Regions from separate parts of the Homo sapiens genome. Here region 2 is linked to region 1. Evidence: fine-mapped expression QTL. A gene starts in region 1. The other region holds a variant in brackets. All regions are shown on one strand. Distances are from middle to middle. Region 1 holds the start of SCYL2 (SCY1 like pseudokinase 2). Region 2 overlaps SCYL2 (SCY1 like pseudokinase 2).

Evidence for each region.
Region 2: its variant is fine-mapped to the expression of SCYL2 in whole blood (INTERVAL, PIP above 0.99).

What each region holds. Positions count from the first base shown.
Region 1 is chr12:100,260,427-100,276,491 of GRCh38, forward strand. SCYL2 (SCY1 like pseudokinase 2) reads left to right here and starts at 6,751. Exons shown (of 18, transcript NM_017988.6): 1 at 6,751-7,366. It overlaps DEPDC4 (DEP domain containing 4), which reads right to left and starts at 6,653. Exons shown (of 10, transcript NM_001364818.2): 1 at 6,494-6,653; 2 at 3,071-3,467; 3 at 1,838-1,983. The coding sequence starts at 6,650. RefSeq lists enhancers at 6,496-6,575, 7,246-7,315, 7,326-7,385 and silencers at 6,946-6,995, 7,096-7,175.
Region 2 is chr12:100,320,944-100,328,943 of GRCh38, forward strand. It overlaps SCYL2 (SCY1 like pseudokinase 2), which reads left to right. Exons shown (of 18, transcript NM_017988.6): 11 at 2,582-2,695; 12 at 5,679-5,811. Among named protein-coding and RNA genes, the nearest start is that of SLC17A8, 32 kb to the right of the region's middle. The variant G/T (reference allele first, on the strand shown) is at 4,184.

The DNA of each region.
Region 1 (16,065 bases):
TGATAAATCATATCCACTTTTAGTTTGAAATTTCTAGAGGTACGTCATGACCTCAAGAAAAAATAATGGGAAAAGTTATTTTTTCATTTGTACTAGATAAAAACTGTACTTCTGGGGGACTCTCCTGCTTGCCCTTTAAATATTAGTCTTCATCAGAGTTCTCTTACGGCCAGGCATGGTGGCTCACACCTATAATCCCAGCACTTTGGGAGGCCAAGGCGGGTGGATAACTTGAGGTCAGGAGTTCAAGACCAGCTTGGCCAATATGGCAAAACCTCATCTCTACTAATAATACAAAAAATAAATAAATAAATAAAAAATTAGCCAGGCATGGTGGCACACGCCTATAGTTCCAACTACTCTGGAGGCTGAGGCACAAGACTTGCTTGAACCTGGGAGGCAGAGTTTACAGTGAGCTGAGATCACACCACTGCACTTCTGCCTGGGCGAAAGAGTGAAACTGTGTCTCAATGGCCAGCCAAGGAGGCTCACGCCTGTAATCCCAGCACTTTGGGAGGCCAAGGTGGGTGGATCACTTGAGGTCAGGAGTTCGAGACCAACCTGGCCAACATGGTGAAACCCGTGTCTACTAAAAAATACAAAAATTAGCCGGGTGTGGTGGCGGGCGCCTATAGTCCCAGCTACTCTGGAGGCTGAGGCAGGAGAATCACTTGAACCTGGGAGGCAGAGGTTGGAGTGAGCCAAGATCACAACAGTGCACTCCAGCCTGGGCAACAGAGCGAGACTCCGTCTCAAAAAAAAAAAAAAAAAAAGAGTTCTCTTTTAGTTCTTCTTCTCAATTCTACACCCTTTCTTTGGGCACCCTGTATTTCCTTTATCATGCCAATGTTAACTATTGTTGATAAATCACAGTCCTCCAGTGTGCAAGTCATAGCTAGTCTTGCTTCTGTCATGGTTTGACCAAATGGAGTAAAGGGCCATTAATGAATTTTGTATGTATCTCTCCTAACTGCCCTGGCTATGGTGCTCTTTTATCTGCCATTAGTGGCATTTTAAGGAGAAAAACACAAGTAGATGAAGTAAATAGTAAAGAGGAGTGGTGCAACAGGTAGTTTAGCTAGTTTGTTCTGAGAAAGGGAAAGAGTAGGAAGATGTTTGGGAGGAGTTTACACAATGGACAAAGGATACACTCATTAAGAAGATGGTCTTGCAGGACAAATACTAAGGACTGTGGTGAGTCCGTATGTTTTCTCTTGCAGTGCAGACTATAGCACCTCCAGTTAATCTGGTCACAGTCATTGTAAAAAATGAATTAAGTGTTATTAGATGTATATTGCCTCACCTGTCTTATCTGATGTAATTGCTGTGTAGAAGGAAACTCCTACAGGGAAGAGAAGGAGGGAGTCAACACACTAATACACTACTTAAATCACATTTAAAACGTCAGTTCTTGGAAACAGTAAAAATATTAGTGGTTGCCTAAGGTTAGAGAGAAGGGAGGAATGAGTAGGTAAAGCACAGAGAATTTTTAGGGCACTGAAACTATTCTGTATGATACTATAATGACAGATAATATGTCATCAAAAATTTGTACAAACCCATAGAATGTACAACACCAAGGCTGAGCCTTAATGTAAACTATGGGCTTTGGGTGAAAATGATGTATCAATGTAGATTCATTGATTATCACAAATGCACCACTTGGTTGCAGGATGTTGATAATGGGGAAGGTTGTGTGTGAGTGGAAGCAAGGGGTATGTGGGAACTGTACTTTCTGCTCTATTTTGCCGTGACCTTGAAACTGCTTATAAGAACCTGTTAAAAAGAAGTTAGTTCTTCCTTACCATGTTCTGAAAAAATAATGAAAACAAATTACCTTCTTTTGAAAGCCGGAGAAAAGGTTTCTGAACTGTGATATTTGGACATAAAGCTGGATTCCCATTTATTGTATGAATAAGTTCCTCAATTCTTTCCTCACCAATCTCCTGTGCTAGAGGATTTGAAATCATTTCATATCCTGGTCTGTTAAAAAATAATACGTGGCTCTTTTCATTATACACAGAACCAAAATTTCAAATATATATTTAAATTAATGTATTAAAATTTATTCATACATTCTCTATTTCCAAAAACGATTTCAGGCAGCTTATAATAAAAGATGCAAATAATTCATTTAATAGACTATCACCAAAAGAGGACAAATTAGAATTCTAAATAAAGAAGAAAAGCATATATGCTAATTCTAAGGTTAACATAGTTGTTATGATGGAATAGAAAATTTTTGTTCTGAGTTTCCAGAAAACCTTGGCTTTTAGTACACTGGCTAAGTCATTTTTCAAATTAGAAAGCATATCCATTCCTTAGAAGACATAGTTTTTCCTGGTATAAACTCTGAAAAATTTATGTGATAATGTCTTCAACAACTAAGCAAAACAGAAAACAAAACTGTATTTGCTCTAAGGAAAACAAAATGTTGTAAAGGAAAAGGAATAATATATATTTTTGGTTACAGCAACAGATGCTGCTATATTGGAAACAGTAAAAACTACTGAGATATAATTCACATCCCATAAAATTCACTTTTTTTTGAGACAGATTCTTGCTGTGTCGCCCTGGCTGGAGTACAGTGGCACAATCTTGGCTAACTGCAACCTCCACCTCCCCAGCTCAAGCGATTCTTGTGCCTCACTCAGCCTCTTGAGTAGCTAGGAATACAGGCACCTGCCACCACATCCCGCTAATTTTTGTATTTTTAGTAGAAACGAGGTTTTGCTATAATGGCCAGGCTGGTTTCGAACTCCTGATCTCAAGTGATCTGTCCGTCTTGCCTCAGCGTGGGCCACCCTACCTGGCCAAAAGTCACCCTTTTAAAGTGTATAACTCAGTGTTTTCTAGTACATTCACAAAGTTGTGCAGCCATCACTATTATCTAATTCTAGTCTATTGCATCATTCCAGTTTTAGAGGAAATGCATAAGTGGATTAATTTTCACATGGATTTTTTTTTTTAATTGGCTTCTGAAAAAAGTACACATTCGAGTTTAGCTCAATAAAGACAGTTCTTCTAGGGTCTAAATAAAATATATTACAGTATCTTAGGTAACACTAACCTCAAGGTTTCATTGAACTCATTCTCAGCATCCTTTTGTCTTTTGCAACAATCGTAAGATGATTTATTGCCTAGAAACCTGTAGAGACTAATGTTGGAATCTTCAAATTCTAATTCCTTTTCTTTTTTGAAAAGCTTCTTCATTCCTACTGGTTCAAATACTTTGTGATTCATTAGAACTTGGCAAAGATGAACCCCTTTAAGACAAGAGATGTCATTGCTACTTAGGCACGTGTTTTGCATAAGATGACTTAAGACCACATCGACAGCATCAGAACCAGTGAAACAGTCTTTGTATGTCTGTAAATGATGCCTCCTTCTTTTTATTTCCACTTGGGCCTGAAGAGAGTGAATAATACCATCCCATAGCTGAGTAGCTTGAAAAGGACCAGAGCATCCTGAAAAAAATTAAATATGCATTTCTAACAAATCTAGATTATACAAAAATATGCAAATTTTTCAGTTTTGACAACCTTATGCTTGTTGAAGGCATATCTGCTGGTAATGTCCTTCTTACGTGTCATCTCACATCTTACATAAACTATAGTATATTTACTAAGTTGCACCATGTGGGTCTGCCAATAAAAACAGAGTAAACCTGGGAACTTGCTTTACTGATGTGAAATACATTATTATATGAATTTATATACCCTTATTACATGGTTAACTACTAGTTATACCGAATCTTCAAGAATGTTATTTTAGGGCATATTTAAAAGTAATGCAAATACACTTGAGTATTGATTATTACAGAGTTGTGGCTTCACCAAACTCTTTGCCTTTTCTTTTTTCTTTTTGCCCTTTTGAACAATGGTTAGTTCTTCATTAGGGAGATCAAGGCAAAGAACTAAATAATCAATTTTTTTAATTGTTTAAACCAGCTGTTTAAAAAGTTTGCTAAGGCCAGGCACAGTGGCTCATACCTGTAATCCCAGCATTTTCAGAAGCCGAGGCAGGCAGATCACCTGAGGTCAGGAGTTTGAGACCAGCCTGGCCAACATGACGAGACTCCACCTCTACTAAAAATACAAAAATTAGCCGAGCGTGGTGGCATGCGCCTGTAATCCCAGTTACTCGGGAGGCTGAGGCAGGAGAATCTCTTCAACCCAGGAGATGGAGGTTGCAGTGAGCTGAAATCGCGCCACTGCACTCCAGCCTTGGTGACAGAGCAAGACTCTGTCTCAAAAAAAAAAAAAGTTTGCTGAAAAATGAAAGAGGGTCACATACCCACTTGAGCTGAATACTTGAATATAACCCAATTATCTAAATTATGAAGTGAAACTACCAAACATTGTAGAGATATTGGGCTCTAGAAAGTGCTTCCACTGTTGCTCCCGATTAAGGGGTTTAGATAAAGATGTGCCTTATTTTACATGGACATATTGCATAATGAAAAAAAATTGCCTTATCACATGCTGAACTTACTCTCCAAATAACAGAAATCCCACTTCTCTGGGCAAAAAGAAAAAAAAATTGCTGAGAAATAATGAAAACCTAAAAACAATCAAAATGTCTATTACTGGCCAGGTTCAGTGGCTCATGCCTGTAATCCCAGCACTTTGGGAGGCTGAAGCAGAAGGATCGCATGAACTCAGGATTTCAAGACTAGCTTGGGCAACACAGGGAGACTCTATAAAAAATACAAAAAATTAGTGGGGCATGGTGGCGTGCTCCTATAGTCCCAGCTGCTCAGGAGGCTGAGGTGGGAGGATCACTTGAGCCAGGGAGGCCGAGGCTGCAGTGAGCTGTGACCCTGCCACTGCACTCCAGTCAGGGCAACAGAGTGAGACCCTGTCTCAATTAGAAACAAAAACAGTTGGCCAGGCGCAGTGGCTTAAGCCTGTAATCCCAGCACTTTGGGAGGCTGAGGCAGGTGGAGGTCAGGAGTTCAAGACCACACTGGCCAACATAGTGAAACCCCATCTCTACCAAAAATACAACACAAAAAAATTTAGCTGGGCATGGTGTCGCACGCCTGTAATCCCAGCTACTTGGGAAGCTGAGGCAGGAGAATTGCTAGAACCAGGAGGTGGAGGTTGCGGTGAGCCGAGATCACGCCATTGCACTCCAGCCTGGGCAAGGGAAAAAAAACAGTCTATTACCTGAAAAAAACAGTTAAATAAATTATGGTATACCCTTACTATAGAATAGTAGCCAGCCATTAGAAAGAATGAAGTAGAGCTATGTTTATAGTGTGCAAGGATCTCATTAAGTAGGGAAAAAGAAAAACCCAAAACAAAAATTTTTTAAAAATGAGCTGAGCAGAACAACTTGTATATTATTATCCTACTTAGGTAAAAATGAATTCCCAACCTATGTAAAAATGTATGTAAATAAATAGAAAGATCTGGAAGAATAAACTTCAAACGAGTAACCTTGGGGAAGAAGGATTGTAATGGTGGCTGATGAAAGAGGATGTACCCTTTTAAAGTGTACAATTCAGTGTTTCTAGTACATTCACAAAGTTGTGCAGCCATCACTATTATCTAATTTCAGACCATTGCATCATTCCACAAAGAAACCTATAGTTCGCAGTCATTCTTCATTCTTCCGTACCCCAGTAAAATTTTAATTAAAATTAAATTTAATTAAAATTAATTAAAAAAATTAAAGAATGATAAGGGAATAACTTAGAACTTCTAGAATGTTTTTTCTAGATTTGCAGGGGGAAGTGGGTAGAATCCAAGAACTTAAGCTCTCTTCTCCAACTATGCATAACCGCAAAAGTATGCCCAACTATACATATGTTTACGATAAAATGACAGAAATAAAAATCCACCACCCTCAAATTCCTTCTGTAACAGAAGTTACCCGTCTAATCACTCAAGAAATCTTATCCCCAGACATTGTGGGCAGAGCGGAGACTGAGGAGGGGAGGCCAGAAAGTGATGGGCGGAGGTGGGCAGGAGGGTACTCGACGGGGTAGGTGGAAAATACAGCGGTACAGCCTGTTTTCCATAGACAGTCTACCTCTCTAACCTTCATTAAACAAGTAGGCTAGATTAAAGAAATAACTCCTCTAGCTCAAGGAATTTGCCCTCTAGTACATTAACCCCTTGTTGCTGTAAGTGTAGCCTAGGGACCAGCAGCATTGGTGCCATCTGGACATGTATTAGAAACGCAGATTATCAGACCCTACTCCTCAATCAGAATTTGCACTTTCACAAGATCCTAGGGATTCGTATGTATATTAAAGTTTGAGAAAAAACGCTTTCCTGCACGCTCCAAGGGCACTTCACCACAGTAACCCCTAAAAAGCCTCAGTCCTGGGTCCCCCAGTCCAGTGCCTGGTAGGGCAGGAAGGGGGCGGGGCTAGGAAATGGGCGGGGCCCTGGACCAATGAGGAGCAGAGTCCCAGCCGCCTGCTCCCTTCAGCTGCCCCCTCCACCTTCACTGCACATTTGGCTAGGATATACAGGGCTACCTGTCCTCCTTTTCCGGCAGAAGCCATCTCTACGGTTCCTGGAACTTGGCCCGTTCAGCCCTGGGCCCGGAAGCTCGTTCTGACTGACAAGTCTACGGAACCTCGGAGTCAAAAGAACCGCCATAAGCTCGCGCGCTGGCTCCTCCCCTGGCACCATAGCCCCGCCCCACCTGACACCCGGGGCGGAGAGAAGTACTGGCTCCGCCTCTTCCGAACCGGCAGGAAGTGACGTCATGCCCCCGGCCGGCAGGTCTTTTAGTCTTTTTCCCCCTCCCTTACTCTTCGTCCCCGGTCCCTCCCCTCCCCACCCCTTTCCTTCTAGCTCCGACGTTTGCGGCCGCGGGGGCGGCGGAGGATATGGAGTAAAGCCAGAGTCAGTGGCCAGGCACGAAGGCAGAGCAGGAACAGCCAGGAGGCGTTTATTAGGGGGGCGGGGGGAAAGAGCCCCAGCACCGCCCCTCCTGGAAGAAGGAAGAGGTAAGTGACCGGCCGCCGGCACCGACCGACCTCCCTCACCGGCGGCTCTCTCGCCTGGGCTCCCGGAGCCGGCGAGGAGGGAATGGAGGACTCGCGCCCGGGTTAGGCCTCCCAGGGCCGCTCAGGCTGGTGGGTGTTGCCTGGTGACGGGCCTGCCGGCGGCCGGCCGGGCGATCGGCGGTCGGCGCCCGCGCAAAGCGGGGCTGGACGAGCAGCGAGCTCCGGGGAGCGGATCCGAGAGGGCCGAGTCCTCGAAAGAGGCCTTGAGGCGACGGGAGACCCGGGATCGAAGTCAGCTGCCGGAGGGAGAGCCCCCCATGCCGGCTCGAGAGCTCGGGTTTCGGTGGTGGAGAACGTAGTACCTTTCGGGGACATTGGACACTACTCTAGGACCGGGTGAGAGAGTTCACCTCAGTTCTGAGGTCCGGAATCCGGTAGCCTGGGTCACCAGCCAGGGCCCTGCCGCCCGCCGTCCTTCTCTGACAGTAGCTTTAGTTCTGGAATGGAAGGTTATTGTGTGTGAGGTGGGTGGGGCAGGGGTTTTGTTAAGAGAAAAAACCCCACGGTTACTCCTGCAGTCTTGTTTTTCTAAACGGGAGAATACGGATGGAGGAGGGTTTAGACCGATAAAGCTTGCAAAAACTTATTGGACTTTGAGCACATACCTGTGATCCGTAATTAAGGAGGCCATATTATCAAATCCACCCTCTAAGGCACTCGAGGAGGCTCCAGACAAGCTGCTTAAAAGCGCTATGCCTGTAGTGACTTCATTGGAAGGTGTCAACTATTTTTTAGTACGTCAAACTCAGGAATTATTTGTGATGACACTTTCTAAAAACATTGGATACTATGAGTGAGTTTTCTAAGTAGCCTATCTCCGTTCTGAAAAATAAATAGTTTAGCAAAAATGCTCCAAATCAGCCTGCCACTGTAAAACCCCATTATGTTCTGGTGATGGCTTGAAAGTCAGGTGCTTGAAGATTCCTTTTGGACTTTGCAGGTTTGTTGTTGTTTGGTTTGCTGTCTTATTCTTTAGCACAAATATTTTTAAAATATTTAAAAATGAAATCAGCTGAGTATATAAATTACTTCTTGAGGCAACATTAAACTGTAATCATAAAGAATGCTTTTGGGGGATTGTGTAAAGGAAGGGAACCTAATGGAAGGTAAGGGCCTTCATTCTCTTTAGATTTACATTACTCACATGCAGAAACCTATTTTGTCTCTAAGATTCATAAATACCCAGTAAAATAAATACAGGCACATTGTACTTCTATACTGTGGAATACTTTCTAGACAGATCAACCCTGTTACTGGGAATAACTACTCATATTCACATGTTTGAAATTCATGATATACCTCCCTTCCCCCACCCCAAGAAGAAAAATAGCTCCTCTTACTGTGTTTAACTCCGTGGGTAGCATCACTATCCATTCCTTTGTATAGAAGTTGAAGTTTGACAATTCCTCTGTCGTGCTTCATACTCAGCCTCTCATGAAGTCCTGTTGATTTTGCCTCTTGAATATCTCTTGACTCTTGTCTGCTCTTCGTCTGTAACAGTAGTCCTGTTCCAAGCCACCACCATCTCTCATCCTGACTACTTCCGTAGCCTCCTGATTATGGTCTGCTTGCATCTACTGTGGTCTCCTGTAGTTTTCCAAACAAGACTTAGTGACTTTTTCAAAATGCAGACCTAATAACATTGTCTTAGTGTTTAAAATCTTTCAGTGGCTTCTCACCATTTTTAAGTAAATCGAACACATTAACATGCCCTACAAGCCCTGCATAGTCGGTCCCCTTTCCAAACTCATCTCCACTGTGCTTTCTGACATTCCCTTTCTCCCCTAGTCACCCTGTCTTTTCTGTTCTCCTGCTTCAAGTATGTGGCTTTGGTTATGCTACTTCCTCTGCTTGGAAATGCCCTTCCTTTCTTTTTTTAGCCAATTATGCCTATTCATCATTCAGCTCACTTCAGGGAAGACTTTCCTGATTAGAATACATTCTCCTGATTATATGTTCTTACCACACCATTGAAGAGTTGTCATGTTTATTAATACTTAATAAATTAATTAGATGTTCCTCATCTCCTGATGTGTAAGTGCTGAATGTTTATTAAATGAATGAATTCATTTAATGCTTACTGAATGGGCCAAGAATTGTACTAAACATTTTATCTTATCATCACTGTTAATCCTTATAACAATCACTTGAGGTATAGCTAGCTTTTCCCCTTTTTGTAGATTAGAAATAGTGTTAGGGTGGGTAGTTAGTTGGTGATGGCTCTAGTAAATATTAGAATTGGCATTTGAACTCAGATTTCCTTACCACTGAAGAGTGTGTACTTAACCATGTAACTTAATTTTAACACTTTGCTGTTCATCAGAATCACTTACGGAGCTTTCTCAGGATACAGATATACTTCACCTTTATAGGTTCCGATTCCAAAGGTTTGAGATACTACCTAGGCATCTATGTGGTTTAAGAAGTTATCCAGGTTATTTAGATGTTCACCAGAATTTGAAAACCACTGTCTTAGACAGTACTTGTGTTTTATGAGTTTGTTTTCATACATTGTATTTGAGATTTTATACTTTTTTTTTTTTTTTGTGAGACGGAGTGTCACTCTGTCACCCAGGCTGGAGTGCCGTGGCGCGATCTCGGCTCACTGCAAGCTCCGCCTCCCAGGTTCACGCCATTCTCCTGCCTCAGCCTCCCGAGTAGCTGGGACTACAGGCGCCCACCACCAGGCCTGGCTAATTTTTTGTATTTTTAGTAGAGACGGCGTTTCACCGTGTTAGGCAGGAGGGTCTCGATCTCCTGACCCTCGTGATCCACCCGCCTCGGCTTCCCAAAGTGCTGGGATTAAAGGCGTGAGCCACCGCGCCTGGCCGAGATTTTATACTTTCTTAAATTAAGGAAGAACTGTAGACTTTAAGGAAGTGATCATTTAATCTAATTTCCTACTCAGTTATTCCTTGTCCCTCTTCTCTAGCTGGAAGGCCTGAATAGTGAGAAACTGTCACCCCTCTGCTACTGCTTTAAAAAAAAATTACAATAATTTCAAGAATCTGATTAACTTCTTGTTGTAAAAACTATAGTTCACTAAATACATGGGCTGGAAGTAGCTTCAAAAAACTTGGATGTAATCTTTCCTCAGATCTTACTTATTGTTTAAATTACTAATTTGATATTTAAGCGTATGTTGCCTGAAATTTCATGTTGCTTTCTTTTTTTTTTTTTTTTTAATATTTTTATTTACATAGAGACAGGGTCTCACTATGTTGCCCAGGCTGGTCTCGAACTCCTGAGCTCAAGTGATCCTCCTGCCTTGGCCTCCCAAAGTGCTAGGATTACAGGCATGAGCCACTGGCCTCATGTTGCTTTTTAAATCTTAAATCTTATTGTACAGTGGTCTTAAAATTTGTGACCAGTGACAGAAACTGAATGTTTTACTTCTTGTTTCTCCCCCTGCATTTAGCATGGTGCTTTTCATCTAGTAGGTACCCAATAATTTGTGTACTAACTTGGCTGTACATTGCTAAGTCTTTTCAGTTTTTTATGTTCGTTTTTAAAATCAGGCTTGTCTTCTGTAATCTGTTCTGGCTTAACTATGTCTGATAATTAGATACTCTTTGTAATTGTAAAGAGAATGATTATACTCAGCTGGTTTAATCTTTGTTCTGTATAAGATTAAACATGATTTCTGTATAGAACAAAGAAGAGCATTATCCAGTTTTTGAAAACTTTCTTTTAAAAAACTTCTAGTAATCTCTGAGTGCTCCCACAAGCAGAAATGTATATTTCAAGAATACATCTTAAGGCCAACTCTGGCCTTAAAGTTAGCCCTGCTCCTTGCAGAGCAGCAAAAAAAAAAAAAAAAAAAAAAGAGAGAGAGAATATATCTTAAGATCATCTTTCTTTAGATACAAACAGGTAAGTACTGCATATGGGAGTATAAGCACACGTATTTTCCCCCAGATTTTGTGAAGTATTTAACCGTATTTCATGTCTTCTGAATGTAATTCTTGAATGTAATTCTTAATTAGAATTACAAAAATTCATTGAATAACTATAAATGATGATATAAATGGTATTCTCTTATTTTCAGGCATTTACATACAAATCTCAGACCTTTGTGCCCCTTTAAGGGATAAAGCAAACTATTTTGAGTTTCTTTGTTTTATATTGTTGTTCTTTGTAGTCAGTGTCTATTATTTTGTGCTTTTTGAAAGTCTAGTCTCTGCTAGGTGCCATGAGACTGAAAGTTATTAAATGTAACTTCATTGCCAGATGTAATTACGGTAAGCCTTTTATTTGCATTGCAGTGACTTCAACAAAAATGGAAGCTCATTCTGCTTTATAATATTTTATTCTTGGGATTGTAAGCTTGGGAAGCTGGGGAAAAAAGTAAAAATATATTCTTGGGGAAGTATAGGACTGTTTGTAGTCATGTTATTTGAAAATTCAGGAAGTCTTTGTTAAGCATAAATATAATTTTACCTGTTACATTTCTTGCTGTATCTAGAATTCATGAGCAGGCAGGACTGAAAGAATTGCCAGTTCCTTTCAGCTACCTGCTGTCAGATGCTGTAATACTCATCCTACTTTCTGCCAGGTGCACGTAAAATCTAGTATTACAACAGATTCACATGCTGGTTCTATTGAAAGCCAGGTGATGGCTGAGCTAGATGGTAGAGAGATACACAGTCTTGGAATCATACTGAAGCTACCCCAAATCCTATTTTGGCTGAAATTTAGGAAGGGCAGATGATTGAATTTCAAGTGAATTATAATAAATGGTGTACAATGAGAAATGCCTTACATGACTAAGAATTTCCATCATTTATAACTTTGTCATTGGAAAATATAGGCTTTTTTCTTCATTAATCAAAGGAAAAATGAAAAGCTATCATTTTAAGAAAAGGTATTTGGACTCTTAGGTTTCTTATATGTCAAATGGCTATGCTAATAATTCAAAATCTCGTTTAAGTTCAGGTCTTATTTTACAGGCTCCTTGGAGATTACTCTGTCCTTGGCCTTCTGTAATTTTCATGGTATTCTTGGGTGATATTTTTCAAGGCCATAGTCTACCATACTGGCTCATCGTGCACCAATTTTTACTTTCAGTCTGGACGGTTTTTTCTAAGTTTTTGGCCTGCATGTCTAAAAACCTATTAGATATCTCCATCTGAGTGTCATTCAGGCAGCTCAAATTCTACATGTCCAAGTTGAGTTCTTCCCCTATAAAACAACTGGCTTCTATATGTCGTTGGTAAATGGCTTCACCTTCCACCTAGACTGTGAAATTGGGGGTGGGGTAGGATTCTTAGTTTCGTTCTTTTCTTCTCTTGGTTTTAACTTGTTTCTTAATTTTTCCTTTCTTCTCCTTTCTCACTGCTATTTTTGTAATTCAGCAACGCTTCTCCCTTTAAAAATTTGTTTAAAATGTGAAATATAACACATAAAAGTATATAACGTAGTTTAACATGTAAATACAAAATAAATATCTGTATAACTAGCACCTTTGAAATACCTCCTTTACCCACCATCTCTTCTCTATCTTCCTTGACCATATTTCCTTTATTTTCTTGCTTTTATATATTCTGAATTATAAATATCCCTGAATTGCATATTGAAGTTCTCTTCAGTCTTGCCATATTCTCAGCCTCCACCTTTAGTATATCTTTCACTCTGCTTGATAGAGTGATTGATCATCTTACTGATGCCTGAAACCCTTCTGTGGCTTCCATAGCTTGATTTCTTACTACTCAATGTCCTTGGTGATCTGGCTTTTTAGCCTCCTTTGCCATACTTTCTTCTTTTTCTTCAGCTTTTAACTGAACTTGGTTTTTGCTTTGTGATTTTACTCCTACAATTCTCCTATTCTCTATCCAGTTTACTCCTCTAGCATTACTGTTTTTGGGAAACATTCTATTCCTCTTCTTTTTGTTCCTATAACACTGTGCATGTATATTCTGTAGCGTTTTATCACTCTGTAGGCTAGTGCTGTGGTGGTTTTACTTGTCTGTCTTCTCCCTTTGATGTAAGATTTTTCATAGCTTATTTTTCATTTACTTCCTTCCCAGTTTCTCATATGGTATCAGATACATAGTGGATACTCAGTAAATATTAAACCACCAAATGAATTTCCATGCCTGTTCTTTGCCATACGTACATCAGTGTTGACTCTGGATGATGGATAGCATCTCAAATTTGAATATCAATTCTGAAAATATGCTTTGTTTTCATATGTAACTGTAGTTTGCAGACCACACCATAGTCTTCCTCCCTTACATATCTTGGCACGTGGTATTATAATCCCTTCTGGAATACTCCTTCCCCCCTTACTTTATAGTTTTGAGCCCATCTTAATATTTCCATAGCATGTACATTCTTACCACAAGTTAATTGCTGTAACTCTTTGGAGGACTGAGTCTGCTATTGGACGGAGTCCCTAAAAAGAAGAACCTCTGTATTCTCAGTGTATAACAAGATGCACGGCATTTAATATATAGCTTGTCAGGCAGCGTTAGAGGAATAGATATGTATGGTTTTAAATAGAATTTTGTATCCTTTCACCTTCCCGTCAAAATCAACAGCAGATGTTCATAGAGAACAACTTGGCATAGCCAGTAAATGTTTTCATAATGCCAGTAGCAACATTTTCTAGCTGCTTACAAAAATGCAGCATTAAATTAAAAAGGGAAAGTCAGTCTCCATTTCCATTTACAGACAGTTCAAATCTTTAATAGAAGAAAGTGGGTTATATTTACATAAGTATAATTTCGTTAATAGAGAAAACAGGATACAAACTACCTGAGATCAGTGGTCTTCAAATATTTTTGCTTGTGTATCCAATAATTTTGAATAACATGTGCTCCTCTTGCACATTTTTTAAGTTGATCACAGCTGGAGTTTTTTTGTCAAGAGTTTAAATAGTTGCAAAAGATCTAATTTCTAAATTGTCGTATATTGTGATAGTGCTTTACTTTATCAAAACCTTGGAGTTTATCAATTGAAATAAATGTGTTCCTATATATCTCTGTGACAACCATCTTCTTAACTGTAGTTCTGTGGTAGATAAGGCGTGGGTTCTTGTTGTTATTAACATCTGTCCTGAAAGAAGCAAGGTACAGCCTCCTTTAGTATTTCTTATCAAACTTCCTTGTGCTTTACTCTTAAGTGGCTTTCTCATAGAATTAAATCTACAGATTGCATCCCCCTCCTCCCACAAAATTTTTTTACACCTAGGAAAATGGCCTACAGTAACACTGGGATGGCTGAGAGAAATACTTTGTTTTAGTCAAGTGGGAAAAAATTGTGAACAAAGAAGTGGTTAAGGAAAATCTTCAGGACATAGACTTGTTCTCAGGCAAATCAATTTTAGGAAAGAGTACACCTGGAAGTTGACAATTTGGAGAGCGATAGGGCTTTAAAACCTTGGTTTGTGCCATAGACCCTTTTGACAATTTAGTAAAGCCTGTGGATCCCTTCTCACAGTAATATTCTAGAATCAGTTTGTCACTTTCTACAGAAAGCCTGCTGGGATTCTGGTTGAATTGCATTGAGTTTCTAGATTATTGGGGATAACTGACACATTAACCATATTGAATCTTCCAATTCATGATCACAGTATATATCGTTCCATTTATTTAGGTTTTCTTCAGTTTCTGTTAGCAGTATTTTGTTTTCATTGTATAGATCTTGCATAGCTTGTTAAATTTATTCATAGGTATTTCATACCCTTGAAACAGTATTTTTAAATTTTAAATTTTCTAGTAGAAATACATAGAAATGCAATTTCTTTTTTTTTTCTTTTTTTTGAGACAGGGTCTCACCCTGTCACCCAGGCTGGAGTGCATTAGTGTGATCACAGCTCACTGCGTCCTCAACCTCCCAGGTTCAAGTGATCCTTCCACCTCAGCCTACTGAGTAGCTGGGACTGCAGACATGTGCTACTGCTCCTGGCTAATTTTTAAAAACTTTTTGGAGTCTTGATATGTTACCCAGGCTGATCTCAAACTCCTGTACTCAAGCAATCCTTCCACTTCAGCCTCCCAAGGTGCTGGGATTACAGGCATGAATTACTATGCCCAGCCTAGAAATACAATCTTTTCAAATATGTTGTTCTTGTATTCTACTATATTGCCAAACTCATGTATTCATTCTGATAGCTATTTTGTAGATTGATTCCTTCTGATGTTCTGTGTATGCAGTTGTGTCATTTGGGAATAAATTGTATTCTTTCTTTGCAGTCCGAATGCCTTTTATTTCATTTTCTTGCTTTATTGCCTTGGTTAGGACCTTTACTGGAATATTGAATAGAAGTGGTAAAAGTGGGTATACTTACCTTGTTCTGAAACTTAGGGAGAAAAGTGGTTAGTATTTTATCTTTAAATATAATGTTAGCTGTAATTATTCAAAGATGCTATTTATCAGGTTGAGGAAGTTCCTTCCTGTTCTTAGTTTCCTAAGAGTTTTTATTATGAATTGGTATTGAATTTTGTCAGTTTTTTTTCTGCCTCTACTGAGATTATCTTGCTTTTTTTCATTATTCAGTTAATGTGAATTACATGGATTCATTTTTAAAAGTTGAATTAACATTGCATTCCTGAAGTGAACCCCATTTGGTCGTGGGGTTGGATGTGATGTTCTAATATCTTAAGGATTTTTACATATTAACGAGGGACATTGGTTTGCAATTTTATTGCCATTGCATTATTTGGTTTGATGTCAAGGTAATGCTGACTACATAACATGAAATGGAAAGTATCCTCCCCTCTTCTATTTTCTGGGAGAGTTTGTGTAGACTTGGTATGATTTTTTTCCTTAAATGTTTGATGATATACCCTATTCATTTAGAAGCTTTAGAATTAGAATCTGTAGAATTTCTGTTATTGGTCATTTGTGTCTTTTAAAATTTTTATTTTCTTTCTTTTTATTTTTATTTTTGAAATAGGATCCCACTCTTTGTCACGCAGGCCAGAGGAGAGTGGCACAATCATGGCTCACTGCAGCCTTGATCTCCCAGGCTTAAGCAATACTTCCACCTCAGCCTCCCAAGTAGCTGGGACCATAAGCACACACCACTATGC
Region 2 (8,000 bases), 56 kb after region 1:
TGTTGCCCAGGCTTGAGTGCAGTGGCCCAGGCTTGAGTGCAGTGGCACAATCTTAGCTCACTGTGGCCTTGACCTCCCACGCTCTCTCAGGCTCAAGTGATCCTCCCTCAGCCTCCATAGTAGCAGGGACCACAGGAACATACACCACCATGCCTGGCTCATTTTTAAATTTTATCAATCACTTAATTATTAATAGTTCTGAGTGGATACAAACAATTAACTCTCTTACATTTGCCTTTTGGAAGCCTAAGAATAAGTTAAAGCAAATAAAATATATCCAGTGTTCTGATAACAGATTCTTAGTAGTTAATTTATTTCTGTCTTCTAACTATAAATGGATGTCTTGAAGTTTGCCAGTATTTTCAGTAGTATCCTTCCTAATTCACATTTGTGCTTCCGTTTTCCTCAGTGATCCCTTCTCTTATGCTTTGCTACAAGGATCATCTCTCATAAACTGCCTGAGATGTGTGTACTTTAGCCAGTTAGTTCTCAAGCCATTTCTTCTTTTCATTTTCTCATTTAGTTCCCTAGCCCCCAGTCATCCCTCTGTTTTCCTGTTATTCCCAGAATTTGCCAGTTATCATTTCTACTATGGCACCACATTAGTTAACAAGAATGTTTTAAATCTTTTTTTCCCCCATTTCTGAGTTATGCTTGCTTTAAGTTTCAGAATTTGGAAGTACTTACAAATAACAAAAAAAAGAAATTAAAATTCGCTCTCACAGATGACGATGGTTAACATTTTCATATATATCCTTCTAGTCTTTTTTCCTAAACCTATGGATAGACACAGGTACCTACACATTTTAGAACTTGGGATTAGGTGCGGTAGCTCACACCTGTAATTTGAGCACTTTGGAAGACTGAGGTGGGAGGATCTCTTGAAGCCAGGAGTTTGAGACCTGCCTGGGCAACATAGTAAGACCCTGTCTGTACCAAAAATAAAAGATGATAAAATTAACCAGGCATGGCAGTGCATGCCTGTAGTGCCAGCTACTTGGGAGGCTGAGTTGGGGAGGAGGATCACTTGAGCCCAGGATGCTACAGTGAGCTATGAATTTGCCACTGCACTCCACCCTGGGTGACAGAGCAAGACTCTCCAAAAAAAAAAAAAAAAGAAAAAAAAACCCAAGAAAACTAAAAAAAGGGCCGGGCGCGGTGGCTCACGCCTGTAATCCCAGCACTTTGGGAGGCCGAGGCGGGCAGATCACGAGGTCAGGAGATCGAGACCATCCTGGCTAACACAGTGAAACCCCGTCTCTACTAAAAAATACAAAAAATTAGCCGGGCGTGGTGGCGGGCGCCTGTAGTCCCAGCTACGCGGGAGGCTGAGGCAGGAGAATGGCGTGAACCCGGGAGGCGGAGCTTGCAGTGAGCCGAGATCGCGCCACTGCACTCCAGCCTGGGCGACAGAGCGAGACTCCGTCTCAAAAAAAAAAAAAAAAAAAAAGAAAACTAAAAAAAAAAGAATTGGGATTATGTAATACTCTGTCCTCAATTTTCTTCTAAAAATTATTAAACACTCTTTTAAGGCTGGTCTCAGTGGTTCATGCCTATAATCTTAGCACTTTGAGAGGCCAAGGTGAGAGGATTGCTTGAGCTCAGGAATTCGAGACCAGCCTGGGAAACATAGTGAGACCTTGTCTTTACAAAAAATTGAAAAATTAGCTGGGCATGGGCCAAGGTAGGTGGATCACCTGAGGTCAGGAGTTTGAGACCAGCCTGGCCAGTATGGTGAAACCCCATCTCTACTAAAAATACAAAATATTAGCTGGGTGTGTTGGCATGTGCCTGTAATCCCAACTACTGGATAGGCTGAGGCAGGAGAATTGCTTGAACCCGGGAGGCGGAGGATTCTGTGAGCCAAGGTCATGTCACTACACTCCAGCCTGGGCAACAAGAGCAAAACTCCGTCTCAAAAAAAAAAAAAAAAAATTAGCTGGGCATGATGGCGTGTACCTGTAGTCCCAGCTACTCAGGAGGCTGAGGCCAGAGGATCCCACAAGACTGGGAGGTTGATGCTGCAGTGAGCTATGATTGCGTCACTGCACTCCAGCCTGGGTGACAGAGCAAGGTCCTGTCTCAAGAAAAAAAAAAAAAAAAAAATTAAACACTCCTTTCGGTATGTTGTTTTAAAAAACTGTTGTATGTTATCATATGGATATATGTAACAGCTAAGAGAATTACTTGAGAGGAGTATTTTTACATGATTTCATACTTGATTTTCCCTTCTTCTGAGAGATAGCAAAACTTATGTGTTGTTATTTAAAGATAAACGAGGACTTGTGTTATCAAAGAAAGAGATTAGGAATGAGATCAGGGAGTTTGGATGTCATACACTAGTTATTATGACCTAGTATGACTTTGAGTAATGTCTTCTGAGCTTTTTTTCTCATCTGTAAGACTGAAAAGTGATTATAACCATTCATTTTTCAAAGAGTTGTTGAAAGGACCAAATAATATATATGAAAATTTGTTTCAAACTATATGACAGTTTAGCCATGCAAATGCAAAACTTTGTAATATCAGAGAGAAAAGATGAGTCTTTCCCTAATATTGATTCAGTTTATTTTCTTTATAGGAGCTCTGTCTAAACATCATTCCAACCTTTGCAAATCTTATAGACTACCCATCCATGAAAAACGCTTTGATACCAAGAATTAAAAATGCTTGTCTACAAACATCTTCCCTTGCGGTAAGTAATTGCATATTAATTTTTGTTTTTCTTTTCACTTGTCAGTGCTTTAAATCATTTTCTTATTGTTTAATAACCCTTTTATAGATTGTTGATGTATTTCATCTTGGCTGTAGATAACTTGTATATAGTACTATAAAAATGAGCTGTAGTTTTCTTTGATACATAATTTATAATATTGCATTCCTAACCTTACTTGCTGTCCCTTTACTTTGAGTGCTTCAGTAAAAAAGTTGGGTGATTATTTTTTTCTTAATCCTTTTCTGCTTTAACTGAATTTATTTTGTTGTTAGTTTAAAAATATTATGAGAGTTTAACTTGGTATCTAAGCGTAAAAACTTGTTGAAAAGTTTCCTTTTATAAATAGCCTTTATTTTTAGTTATTGGTCTCTAAATGTCTTATTTCTCACTGACTTGCCCACTTCTTAAAAAAGTAGAGTACAAGAAAGCAATAAATTAATGTGAATACAAGTAGGATAAATAGTTGTGCTAAAAAATGTAGACCAAGGAAATAGTTACCTTCTTTGAATACAAAATTTTAACATTCAGTTACTTGTTAGTCAAGGAAGGTAGAATTAATAACAAAGTTTTCATTATCTCATATTGAAAGCAATAAATGTCCCCAGCCTTTTCTCTAACACTAAATATAATAGTTTATCACATTTATATTTCTTTATAGAAGTAATATTGAATGCTGTCTTCAAAATAGCAGCTTTAAAGAGGGAGAAATGTTCTCTTTTGCCTGACCAGTTCTTGATATTGATTTTTGATAACGGACATATTATTAAATTTGCATTTTGTAAAACTAGTTCTCTGGAGATCCCGTCTTTATCTGGTGGAATGTGAATTTAAATAAAAATAAACAGCTTAATAAAATTATAAGCAAAAGTAATTTGAATGATATGATTTTATCTTATAGCCATTGAATCTATTTTAGTTCATTTCTTGGTTGAAAGGCTTTGAAATGGAAAATGTAACACCAAAGTAGAAAAAGAAATCATTACTGAAACAAACAAGTATGAAATGAAATAAAGTCAAGTTTTAGTTCTTATTCTCACTTTGTTACTAACAACCCCTGTGACCTTGAAAAGTCACTGTGCCTCTCTGAGTCTTCACTATCATTAAAAGTAGCTGTTTTCTCTAAAATTCTCAATTTTACAATTGAATTTTTAAAATAGATGGTAGTAATATACAGCTTAAAATTTAGTTTTCAAAATGCCCTTTTAAAGATCTTACAATCATACTATGTACCTTATTTTATGGCAGCATAAATTTATATTAACATACATTTTCTCAAAGTACATGTTGTAGGCCGGGCATGGTGGCTCACACCTTTAATCCCAACACTTTGGGAGGCTGAGGCGAGTGGATCTCGAGCACTGAGTTCAAGACGAGCATGAGCAACACAGCGAGACCTCGTCTCTACTAAAAATAAAAAAATTTAGCTGGATGTGGTGGCATGGTGGGAGCATCACTTGAGACCAAGAG[G/T]TCGAGGCTGCAGTGAGTTGTGATTGTGCTGCTCCTTCCAGTCTAGGTGACAGAGCAAGCCCCCGCCGCTCCCCACCCCGCCCAAAAAAAATCCAAAACCAAAGCAAAGCGAGTACCTGTTCTAGTTCAGTTCTGAGCATATGTAGGGGTATGTAGAAATGGGAAACATGGATACTTAAATGATGTGAATTGCTGCCCAGTTATATGTATGTTTCTTTTTAAGATGCCAACTGGCCGTTAAGGCATGTTGTTTACAAGAAGTTATAATGAATGTATTTATATTTAGAACAGTAACTAGGAATGGATTTACATTTTATATGTCACCTTTTAAGTGGATTTTAGATAGTACTTTCAGTGCTTCTGCCTACCTTCAGAGTGGCAAATAGGAATTCCCAAATTGTATTCATAGTCCTCTATCTCTAAAAGTTTAAAATTCTGACTAGGAAATTCCTGAGTCGTGAGTTAGTATTGTGTCTTAATACTCTTCCCTGAAAATAAAATTTTTAAAAATTCTACACAGAGTTAGGTAAAATCCTCCAAGAGCTATATTTATTCATTACTTACATGACTAATATTTTATATATCCTAAAAGTAAATAAAATTAGTATTCTCGGTTTTGCTTAAAATATATATATATCTCAGTAGAATGCAGCTGTTCCTTTTATAAAACGAATTATGAGTACAAGTTAAGCGTTCAGATACCTTTTTGAATTTATAATATCTCTTGTGTTTTAATTTCAGAAAACAATTGTACATTGTTTTTTAGAAATGGAAATTTTTCCCCATTTTTCCTGTAGAACTATGGTGCTTTATTAGCCAACAAAATTATTTTCTGCCTTTGTTGGTTTACTGTTTTTTGAAAACTGGAGTTTTATTAATACTATAGTCCTGACTTAAAGATATTCTATCTTAAGAAATTCCAAATAGAAGTAGGGTATGATGTATTTATCAAATAGTCAAGTGCATATGGAATTTTGATAAAAGCTTCTAAATAAGAGGTCTTAATAACTGTATATTTGGAAATAGAAAACACATATATGGATACCTTCACATGTTAAAATATTTAGTTTAAAAATGAATTGAACCCAAGTTAGAGTAAAATACTGGAATGTGGGTGAAAATGATCACTTGGTGCAAAGAATGTAGTCCTTTTTATTATTCAAATGTCCCCAAAGGAGTGTTCTTATGATAGTAACACATAATGTAGTAAAAGTTTCTCAAATTCTAATCACTTTAAAATGCTACAAGATTGTAGTCATTCCTTGACTTTAGCTCACTAGTGACCTGGTGAAGCAATCATAAATTCTTTGTGAAACAAGCCAGGAAAATTAGTAAATAAGTGAATTTCCTATGTTGATAAAGGATGAGAGCTTCTAAATCTACATTTATTCTTGAGACTTTAACATATTTATATGAAGATTAAGTTTACACTTAAATATTTTGTTCTAGATTTTGAAAACTTTTAATGACTAATGCAATTTACCTCTTTTAATAGGTTCGTGTAAATTCATTAGTGTGCTTAGGAAAGATTTTGGAATACTTGGATAAGTGGTTTGTACTTGATGATATCCTACCCTTCTTACAACAAATTCCATCCAAGGAACCTGCGGTCCTCATGGGAATTTTAGGTAGCTGAAAATTTAATGTCATTTGATGCTATTTTATCATGCAAATAAATTTTCCAATCTATAAAACAATTATACTCTCCTTTCGTGTATATAGCATTTCATAATTGAAGAATGATGTGATAAATACCATAATATAACTTTTCTCTTTAAGTTTAGCAAAAGCAGTAGAATCTTGACATTTATAAAGGAATAAGATATTTAAGAATTCTAGCTTTACGAATATCATGATAGCATGTAGTTTTCCCCATAAAATGGTACAAAGTGAGAGAGGCAAACAAAGCTACTGGAAATGCTGATACTGGTCTTAGTAGTAATATCTGAGGTTTATTTGATACTCAATTTGTAAGAGGCAAAGTATTTTCTCTGCGTTATGTTATTTTATTCTTCCCCAAATTCAATTAAATAGGTACTATTGTTTCTATTTTATAAGGAAACTGAGGCTCAGAGAGGTAAAATAAGTGATTCAAGATCATATAAGTGGTAAGTGATAGGAGCTGGTTTTCTAATATGTTTAAGTCTTAATTAGTATATTTTGTGGCTAAGTGATATGCTGATGAAGCATGTTAACCTTATAGGACATTCTGTTCTCTCAGCATAATTACAAATTACTAAGAAACTCTGAAATCATTTATATATAGTTAAAGTTATAGAAGTCCAATCTGAAAATGCCAGGGGTCTGCTGCACTAATAAAATAGGCATAGCTATAGAGTCACAAAAACATTTAACAGGTTCATTTTTTATTTAATTTAAGGTTGTTTGCTAATTTTTTTTTTTTTTGAGATGGAGTCTCATTCTGTCACCCAGGATGGAGTGCAGCGGTGCCATCTCAGCTCACTGCAACCTCCGCCTCCCGAGTTCAAGCAATTCTCTGCCTCAGCCTCCTGAGTAGCTGGGATTACAGGCACCTGCCACCACGCATGGCTAATTTTTTTGTATTTTTTGTAGAGACAGGGTTTCATCATCTTGGCCAGGCTGGTCTTGAACTCCTGACCTTGTGATCCACCTGCCTCGGCCTCCCAAAGTGCTGGGATTACCGCCTGGTTCTTTGTTAATTTTTAAGAAAAATTATATTATTCATCCATGTATTCTTAACACCTAATGTAGTGCTTGGCCTGCAGAAACTGCTCAGTAAATATTTGTGGGAATGGTTAGCAAGTATTTATTGTGGACCTCTATAGACATGGAAGGTACTCTAGGGATATCGCATGAATCTTTTGTGCAGAAAGAAGTTTGTCTTCTTGGCTGGATGCAGTGGCTGACACCTGTATTCCCAGCACTTTGGGAGGCCAAGGTGGGTAGATCACTTGAGCCCAGGAGTTCAGGACCAGCCTGAGCAACATGGCAAAACCCCATCTCTACTAGAAATACAATAATTAGCCAGGTGTGGTAGCATGCGCCTGTAGTCCCAGCTACTTGGGAGTCTGAGGTGGGAGAATCACATGAACCAGGGAGGTTGAGGCTGCAGGGACCCATGATCGTGTCACTGCATTCCAGCATGAGCAACAGGGCAAGACCCTGTCTTAAAAAAAAAGTCTTTTTGAGCAGGAGTTTGGCATAGTAGAAATTTGAGCCCTGGCTCTAATCCTGGCTCTGTCAGTTCTTGAGGTGACTTTGAAAAGTTTATTTATCCAATGAGGATGAGACTAACGTCATTTTAGGATTCTTGTGAGACTTCACTGAAACAAAGGGAAAGTAACAAGCATAGTGCTCAGCAAATAAGCATTTAGTAGGTGCCCAATAAAGTTACTCTTTGGGTATATAAGTCATGTGCACATTAACAGAATAATGGGGGATGGTATTTCACAAAGCTTTGGATTATATACAAAACACTTAGAACTCAAAAGCATTCAGAGAATGAGGCGGAAATGTACTCAGTTTACCAAATGAAGGCTTTGTGGATAGATGTAACAAGTGGGGTCTTGAAGATTGAGTAAATAGGTGAGACAATAGGGAAGGATTTTGTGGAATTGAATTCAGTTATTAAATTTCAAACATGTTGAGTTTGATTTGCTGAAGAAGTGAATAAAGGTGTAGGACTTATATTTTGACTGTACCTATACTATACCCTTTGAAATAGATGCCTTGAGTATGATTTCTGAAATATATATTTAGATGTTTCAGAATAGAAGGCCATTCTGTAACCTTACTGCTGCACAATAAGAATTGAACCTGGTTCTGATAAGCTTCT